Regions from separate parts of the Homo sapiens genome. Here regions 1 and 3 are each linked to region 2. Evidence: fine-mapped expression QTL. A gene starts in region 2. Each other region holds a variant in brackets. All regions are shown on one strand. Distances are between the middles of the regions. Region 1 overlaps ATP2B3 (ATPase plasma membrane Ca2+ transporting 3). Region 2 holds the start of CCNQ (cyclin Q). Region 3 overlaps ZFP92 (ZFP92 zinc finger protein).

Evidence for each region. PIP is the estimated chance that this variant, and not a neighbour inherited with it, causes the effect. A credible set is the group of variants that fine-mapping cannot tell apart.
Region 1: its variant is the best candidate, but not a certain one, in a credible set for the expression of CCNQ in whole blood (TOPMed, PIP 0.74).
Region 3: its variant is the best candidate, but not a certain one, in a credible set for the expression of CCNQ in fibroblasts (GTEx, PIP 0.51).

What each region holds. Positions count from the first base shown.
Region 1 is chrX:153,558,652-153,561,407 of GRCh38, reverse strand. It overlaps ATP2B3 (ATPase plasma membrane Ca2+ transporting 3), which reads right to left. Exons shown (of 22, transcript NM_001001344.3): 18 at 1,466-1,679; 19 at 521-732. Among named protein-coding and RNA genes, the nearest start is that of CCNQ, 39 kb to the left of the region's middle. RefSeq lists an enhancer at 235-1,019. The variant CA/A (reference allele first, on the strand shown) is at 1,043.
Region 2 is chrX:153,597,709-153,600,464 of GRCh38, reverse strand. CCNQ (cyclin Q) reads left to right here and starts at 1,326. Exons shown (of 5, transcript NM_152274.5): 1 at 1,326-1,503. The coding sequence starts at 1,392. It overlaps LOC105373383 (a long non-coding RNA gene), which reads right to left and starts at 1,125. Exons shown (of 1, transcript NR_131982.1): 1 at 572-1,125. RefSeq lists silencers at 956-1,095, 1,196-1,245, 1,256-1,615.
Region 3 is chrX:153,424,361-153,427,116 of GRCh38, reverse strand. ZFP92 (ZFP92 zinc finger protein) reads right to left here. Exons shown (of 6, transcript NM_001136273.2): 6 at 636-2,756. Among named protein-coding and RNA genes, the nearest start is that of ZFP92, 14 kb to the right of the region's middle. The variant T/C (reference allele first, on the strand shown) is at 1,003.

The DNA.
Region 1 (2,756 bases), 39 kb after region 2:
TGGCCTTACTATACCTCAATTTTTCTACAAATACACTATATTTTAGAACACTTAGCCCCTCCTAGACAGTGGGGCTGACCAGCCTGTCCACAGCACTGTGGGAAGCAGAGGTTAGTGTGTCAGCACTGGGCACAGAGGTCATCTCCAAAAGAAACTTCTGGAGTTATGGCAGCCTCATGCCAAGGAATTAAGTGCTAGAAATGGGAATGGCAGACCTAGAGGGAGCCAGGGAGGACTCCTTCCAGCATCTGTGAGAAAACTTCGTTCCGATGAGGGCTCACGAAACCCTTCTGGAAGCCAGCGCGCTCACCCAGGGCAAGGCCGGCAATGTTTGGAAGATGAAGAAGGCCCTCTCCGACATGCAGAGAGGACGGGGGCTACAGGAAAGCCAGGTGGGGTGGGGCTCCTTCTGGGAGTGGAGGTGGGGAGGCCAGTACTAGGGGTGGACGAGGGGTCTTGAAGCCCACCACCTCCACTTTTTGCAAGTGGCAGAGGCCAAGAGTGGAGCCGCCCCTCCTACCTGAATCCCGAAAGTGCCCAAAACGATGGTGCAGAAGATGGGGTTGCTGAAGATGCCGTCGAACACGTTCCTCTCGCCGTGGATCTTGCGGGCGTTGATCTCGTTAAAGAGCTGCATCATGACGAACGTGTTGAAGATGATGGTGTAGTGCTCTGAGGGTGGCGAGTGCAGGGGCGCATTCCTCCCGCTGTCGATGTCGAAGAAGAGCTCCCCTGGAAAGCAACATTCCCCACTCAGGCACAGTCATCTCAGCGCATGACGCATTACTCAGGAGCGAGACTTCGGTGTGTAGCTCCCGAGATGGGTCCCTTGTCCCAGGGGATGGCCACTTCCAGCTCACGGCCAAGGCCCAAGGCAGCCACACCCACCCCAGGCTCAACCAACCAGAGTCCTGAGACCCCTCTGGGCCAGGGGCCAGACCCTGAGCCTGAGGGCAGGAAGGAAGAGATTAAGAAGGGAAGTTCTTAAGGCTGGCTTTCCTCGGACGCCCTCCTCCTCTTCCTCTCTCTTGCGGTCACCCCC[CA/A]CCCACCTCACAGCTTCCAGCACGGCACCCCAGTCACTCCACAGGAGCAATCTTCACAGGGTAAATGTGGGCTGTTCTGTTCCTAGGGTTACCGTGGCCACTCTGGGGCTGGGTAGAAGCTGCCTACTCTACACAGCTACACAGCCGTGGGCAGGATGTCAAGACATGAACTGTTTCTCAGCTGCTCAGCGGCCTGGGAGGAGAGGCTTGCGAAAGAGCTGTAGGCCACCAGCAGGCCTGGCTGCAGGGTTGCTAGCCTGGCCCATCTGCTCCTTCCCCTGTGTGCTGTCCAGTCAGGAAGTGCAGCGTCCCACCCCGTACTGGGTGCGGAGACACAGGTGGAGACACACCAGACAGAATCTGAGCCCGAGGTGGTGGCAACAGTGTCCTGAAGTCCTCCCGGGTGCCCCTGGCCAGCCTACCGACAAACAGCAGGGTGAAGATGATGGCGAGCTGGTACACGGCGTGGCCCAGAATGTTCTTCATCATGGTGCGGGAGATGAGGGGCTTGTCGCGGCCGTACGGCTTCCGCAGCAGCAGCGACTCTGTGGGTGGCTCCGTCGCCAGGGCCAGAGAGGCAAATGTGTCCATGATCAAGTTCACCCACAACATCTGCACGGCTTTGAGAGGAGAGTCCTATGGAGAGGAGGCAGTCACCTTTCCATGGGCCGCCTGCCCGGGAAGGTTGGGGGTGGAAACCCAGTAGCTCCTGGGGGCTCCTCATGGGGTCCACATCACCAGGATTTCATGCCCATGAAAACAGACATCTCCATCCCTACATCGCCTTTACGCTAGTGGGGCGTTTTCTTTGGGCTGTCACGTGCCCGCCTCCCTTCTCTCACCTGGCAGCAGGTGTGCTCCAAATCCCTCGCAGGAGGTGAAAAACCCCAGACCACAAAACAGCCCGACGATGGGGTCTGCCATTTGGGGCAACAGAGTGAGGGCTGCTCTCCTTGTCTCCTGCACCTCAGGGGCAGGAGGAGGCAGAAACTCTGAACTGGACCTTCCTTCTCAGCTCCTCTGAGTTGTTCGTTAAAAATCAGCCTCACAGAAGCCAGACACACAAGGCCACGTACTGTCTGATTCCATTCATAGGAAACTTCCAGAACTGACAAATCCATAGAGAGAGAAAGCAGATGAGTGGGTGCCAGGGGCTGGGGTTTGGGGAGTAGAGAGTGACTGCTCACGGGGTCTGGGTGTCCTTTTGGGGTGATGAGAATGTTCTGGGAATAGACAGTGGAGGGATATAAACCTCGGAGTTATGTACTTTCAAAAGGTTAAAATGGTTCTGTTGAAGTTTGTTATGTGATTTTTTATCTCAATTTAAAAAATTGTTTTGAAAAGACCAAGTTGATCAGCAGGCAATTTAAACACCCCCTTTCTAAGGCGGGGTGAAGAAAATCTGGACACTCACCAATGGGGAAAATGGGACTGTTGAGAAAGGGTTCCCATGGGACGCATAGCCCACGCAGAAACTCATACACAGATGCTCCTGGCAGCACCATTCACAAGAGCCAAAAAGTGGGAACGAGCCATGTGTCCATCAGGGCAGACATACATAATGTGGCAGTCTGTGCCGTGGAGTGTTATGAGGCCATGAAAAGGCAGAAAGTCCTGCCCTATGCTACGGTGTGTGTGAGCCTGAAAACACGGTGCTAAGCGAGATGCCAGACACAAGAGGCCACATATTATTTGATCCCATAGGAATGAAAT
Region 2 (2,756 bases):
CACAGATTGGAGTGATGGGGCCACAAGCCCAGGAAGAACTCAGGCTGCAGAAGCTGGAAGAGCAAGGAAGAACTGATCCTCTGCCAGAGCCTTTGAGGGAGCAAAGCCCTAGTGTCACCTCCATTTCAGGTGTCTGGCCTCCAGAATTGAGAGAGGATATACTTCTGCTGTTTTTAGCAACCCAATTTGTGGTCATTTGTTACAGCAGCCCCAGGAAACTAACCCAGCTGGGATGGAGAGAGGACTTGGGGAGGCTGGTGGAGGCAGGAAGTGCTGAGGAAGGAGAATGAGGCCGGACTGGGTGTGTGGGGTGGGGGTAAGAGGTGGAGACTTCCACACCATCAGGAGATCAAGGCGCCTGGGCAGAAGGGTTTAGGGAGCAGTAGCTTTTTCCTCTCCATATTGCCAGCTGTCTGAAATTGTAGCAATGATCTGAATGTATCAGAATGACTCCAGTGACTGTCACTAACTTGGGAGTGAGTACCTTTGGGGTTCTATGTCCCTAAAGCCTGATGCACCATTTCCTGCTTGTGGAAGACGCGAATGAAAAATGAGATGGTAAATACCTGAGTTCGATATTCAGCATTCATTCAGCAAACATTTATTAGGCTCCTACTGTGCGTCGCGCTGGAAAGGCAAGCAGAAGCTAGATTCCCAATCGATCCCGGGAGGCTGGACGATCCAGACACAAACACCGTTCATGCGTCTATTCGAAAAGGCCCTCTTGGAATTTTGTGCACAGCATTTCCTTGGGGTGTCGATGGATCGGGGTCTGCAAACATTAGCACCTTTTCCGGTGGCCGCTGTCTTCTCAGACCTCAGACACCGGCGCCTCCCCGTGAACTCCCGCAGGCGTCCCTAGCCCAGGGCTTGGCGGGCGCTGCCGGTTGTACCTGGCCTAAGCCACGCTGGGCCGACAGCCCGGGGCGACACCCCCTTCGGACGGCGGGGATTTGCGGCTCGGGTGACCGGAGGTGCCCTCCCGCGGGTCTCGGAGCAGCTCCGCGGGCTCTCGCTCCGCGGGGAGGAGCCTGCGTCTCCCAGGGGCGGGGCTCGAGGCGCCTAGGGGCCGGTGGACACATACCAGCCGCCCCGTGGTGTCGGCCTCTGCGCCTGCGCCTGCGCCTGCGCGCGCGGCCAGGCAGCGTCTGTGGCGCAAGCGCGCGCTCACCCTTGGGCGAGGGCCCTGAGGGGCGGGGCGGGGCGGAGGAGCGGCGGGGCGGCGAGGGGCGGGGCGGGGCGGCGAGGGGCGGGGCGGGGCGGCGAGGGGCGGGGCGGGGCGGGGCCGGACGCGGCCGGGTGGGGCGGCAGCGCCCGCCGCGAGCACCTCCAGTTCTGCCGGCTTCTGCGCGCCGGGGCCGCCTCTCCTTCCGCCGGTGCCGCGGCGCCTCATGGAAGCCCCGGAGGGCGGCGGAGGGGGGCCTGCAGCGCGGGGCCCGGAGGGGCAGCCGGCGCCCGAAGCCAGGGTGCACTTCCGAGTGGCGAGGTTCATCATGGAGGCAGGTAACCGCGGCCGGGGGAGGCCAGGACAGGCGGCGCCGCGGCCCGCTTCGCGGAGCGGGCCCGGCTGGCCAGGCCGGCCTTCTGGAGTGCTCACCGTAGCAGAGGCCGGGAAGCCCTGCTCGGGGCTGAGGACCTCCGCCTTTGCGCCGCGCCCGGTGTGCTGAGCAGTGAGCCGCGAGGTATCCCCATGGCGTGGACCGGTGTGCAGGCCCTAGGAGAGGACGTGGCCGGGTTGGGCCTCCAGCGAGGCGGAGACCGGCCCGGGCGCCCGCAGCTCTGCGCAGTGCGCCACGCCTTCTGCCGGCACCCGCGGCCCTGCACTCCGGTAGACTTTATGGCGCTTAGTCGCGCGGAGCCTTTTGGAGAACGCTGTCCGAGGGTTCCTGTCACTCCGGGGACCTAGGCTGCTTGCAGCTCCTGTTCCGAACCCTGCCAGGACATCCACAGTAGTGTTGGGCTCCGCGCTTCCCAGGCGAGGTGATTAAGCTAAGATCTCTGTAGAAACATCGTTTCCATCCAGCCATCAACAGTATTTTTTTTTTTTTCGAGACGGAGTCTCGCTCTGTTGGCCAGGCTGGAGTGCAGTGGCGTGATCTCGGCTCACTGCAACCTCCGTCTCCCGGACTAAAGCAATTATCCTTCCTCACGCTTCCGAGTAGCTGGAATTACAGGTGTGTGCCACCGTACCCGGCTAATGTTTGTATTTTTAGTAGAGACGGGGTTTCACCATGTTGGCCAGGCTGGTCTTGAACTCCTGGCCTCAGGTGATCCAGTTGCCTCGCCCTCCCAAAGTGCTGGGATTACAGGCGTGAGCTACCTCGTCCGGCCCATCAACAGTATCTTGATAGGAGATACTGTTAGTTGGCGGGTAGTTATTTCCTACCTTTACTGCTTGGGGGAGAAGGGTTGGGCAGATGTGCTTTCTACCCAAGGTGGGCGGAGAGTCTGAGGACTGCTGCAGGACTGTTCATCCCAGTGATATGTAAATTTACTGTAATTTGCAAGAAGAGTTGCAAAGTTATTATTAGGGAAGGATGGCAGTGACACCTCATCTGCTACCGTCTGCTCGGAGGGTCCGTGTAAATTGGGGTTTGCTCTGTAAAACAAAGCTTGGAAGGTCATGTCAGTAACAGCACCTTATCTGGCATCTCCTGGAATGAGGGGTCCCAGGTAGGAATTGTCTTTATATAACAAGTTTAGACCTTCTGAGGGACTTCTTTATAAAATGTATTACACAATCCTTTGTCCTTTGT
Region 3 (2,756 bases), 170 kb after region 2:
TATAATGAAAAGACAGACAATAACAAGTGTTAGTGTATTAGTCTGTTCTTGCATTACTATGAAGAAATACCTGAGATTGGGTAATTTATGAAGAAAAGAGGTTTAATTGGCTCACGGTTTTTCAGGCTGTACAGGAAGCATGGCAGCATCTGCTTCTGGGGAAGCCTCAGGGGTTTTTACTCATGGTGGAACGCAAAGCAGGAGCAGGCACATCACGCTGCCAGAGCAGGAGCAAGAGAGAGAAAGGGGAGGTGCCACACGCCTTTAAAGGACCATCTCTTGGGAGAACTCAATCACTATCATGAGGACAACACCAAGAGGATGGTACTAAACCATTCGTGAGAACCCTGCCCCCATGATCCAGTAACCTCCCACCAGGCCCCACCTCCAACATTGGAGATTACAATTCAACATGAGATTTGGGTGGGATCACAGATCCAAACTATATTGGTTGGTGAGCATATGGAGAAACTAAAACGCTTGTACACTGCTGGTGGGAACATAAGATGGTGCAGCTGCTATGGAAAAGCTTGGTAGTTCCTCGCACAGTTGAACACAGAGTTACCACATGACCCAACAATTCCACTCCTAGCCGTATATCCAAGAGAAATGAAAACATATGTCCACGCAGAAACTGGTACACAAATGTTCACAGCAGCTTTATTTGTCATGGCCAAAACCTGGTAACAACCCAAATGTCCATCAACAGGTATTCAACAGGTATTGTGGTCCACCCATACAATGGGATCCTACCAACAATAAAAAAAAATGGAGTACTGATATGCACAAAAACACCTGATGAAAAAAGAATTGTGCTGAGTGAAAGAGGCCAGACATACACTGTATGAGTCCATTTCTATGGAATTCTAGAAAATGGGAATTAATCTATAGTGACAGCAAGCCAAGCAGTGGCGGTGGGGATGGGGGACAGTGAGGAGCAGGAAAGAGGGGTTGCTGGAGGCGCAAGGCCACTTTTGGGAGTGGCGGATCAATTCACTGTCT[T/C]GATTATGGGGGAGGTTTCATGGGTGTCCACACATGCCAAAAACCCTCCAACTGTACACTTTAAAGACGTGCAGTTTCTTGTATGCCCATTATACCTTCATAATGCTGTCAAAGAAAGATTAAACAATCATTGACCTTCAGGTCTGCAGCAGGCCTCCATTTCCCACATGAATATTCCCCGGCGGTGGAGAAGGCTCTAATTTGGCCTTCCTGAACACAAAAGGAGGGCACTGCGCTCCTCTCAAAAGTCCAAGGCCTTCGATTAAAGGTATATAAGAATCTGCAGAGCAGCTGTCCAGAACTCCTGGAGGACCCCCGTTTTGTGAAGACAGTGATAGATGCACTGGGGCTGGCATCGGATGGAACCAGCTGCGAGTCCCATGGCAAGTGGGAGCCCCTGAGACACGTGGCTGGGGCCCTGGTGTCAAAGACGTCCCCTCTCATGTTGCCTCAGCGTCATCATGCCCCCAGCCCAACACCTCATGGGCATCACAACCATCGAGACGACTACAGTTATAAAATTTGTGGTGGTCAGTGTGTAAATTCAAACCCTGTGGTAGTCATAATTTATATTAACTTCCCTTTGTCATTCTTAGAATAATTCTTTCATGTTTTGGAAAATTGCTCCTCATCAGGAGACTGTTAGAGCCCAAACTTTTGTATATGGCATCCCAGACTCTCCATACTCTGGTTCTAACTGACCCTTTAGCCCATACATGTCCTACTGAAACCTCTCTGCCCTTCTAAGCTTCCCTGAACACACCTCATACTTTCCCTTCTTCCCTGTCTGTCCGAACCCAAGCACTTCCCAGCCAAGGACTCCCTTCCTTTGCTTCTACCTCCACTTCCTGTCTCCAGAGCTGCCCTTCCAACTACCCTGGCAAGTATGGGAGCTGCCATGTTGCCTGAAGTCTGGGAACAGAAGCGACTGGAAAGAACACACAGCTGTGTTCTCAGGAGACTGATGTGGCACTTTGCTGAGGAACACAGGGGACCAGGCCCAGCCTCCCTTCCCTCTGGTCTCAGAGTCACGGCATCTGAGTGGCCTCGGGTGGCTGCCTGTGGTCCCAGTCAGAGGAGCCTGCACCCCTGGGCTGACCCGAGGCAGCTCACCCAGAATGCCTTTCTGTCTTACCTTCACAGGGACCCCCACAAGGAACACCCAAAGCCCAGCTCTGGCCATTCCCCACAATCTCAGGCTTACAGCCTTTCCTGTAACCTTGAACCCAAGGCCTATCCATGTAGTTTAAACCCTCAGAATAACCTCTCTACACTAGAGGGCTCATTTCCAGGCCAATACTCATACATCTTCCTTATTTGCAACCAAAGTAAATGGGACAGTTCCATTTCACAACGAATCCAGCCAGGACAATTTACTAGTTACATGGAGACACTGCCAGAGCATTTATGTGGCTCTTGAAGCATTCACAGTTTCAAAGGGCAAAAGCCCAAAGACAAAGGGGTCCCAGGTTGGCATCCAGGTAAGTTCTTCGGTGGCAGGGTGGAGGAAGCCTTGGAAAACAGGCAAGACTTTCCCCATAGTTTAAGCTTTTACATTCTAGCTGTCCATCACAAAGCAAGCTTGGGCTATACCCTCCCAGTTCCCCACACAGCAAGAGGGAGGGAGCCCAATTTCAAGGCACCATTGAAGGAAAAACACAAATGTCCTTTTCGAACATTCTGACTTTGATTCCATGTGAAACCCGTTCAGCTCACGTGGCATACCTAACTGCCACACCCAAAAGAAAATGATA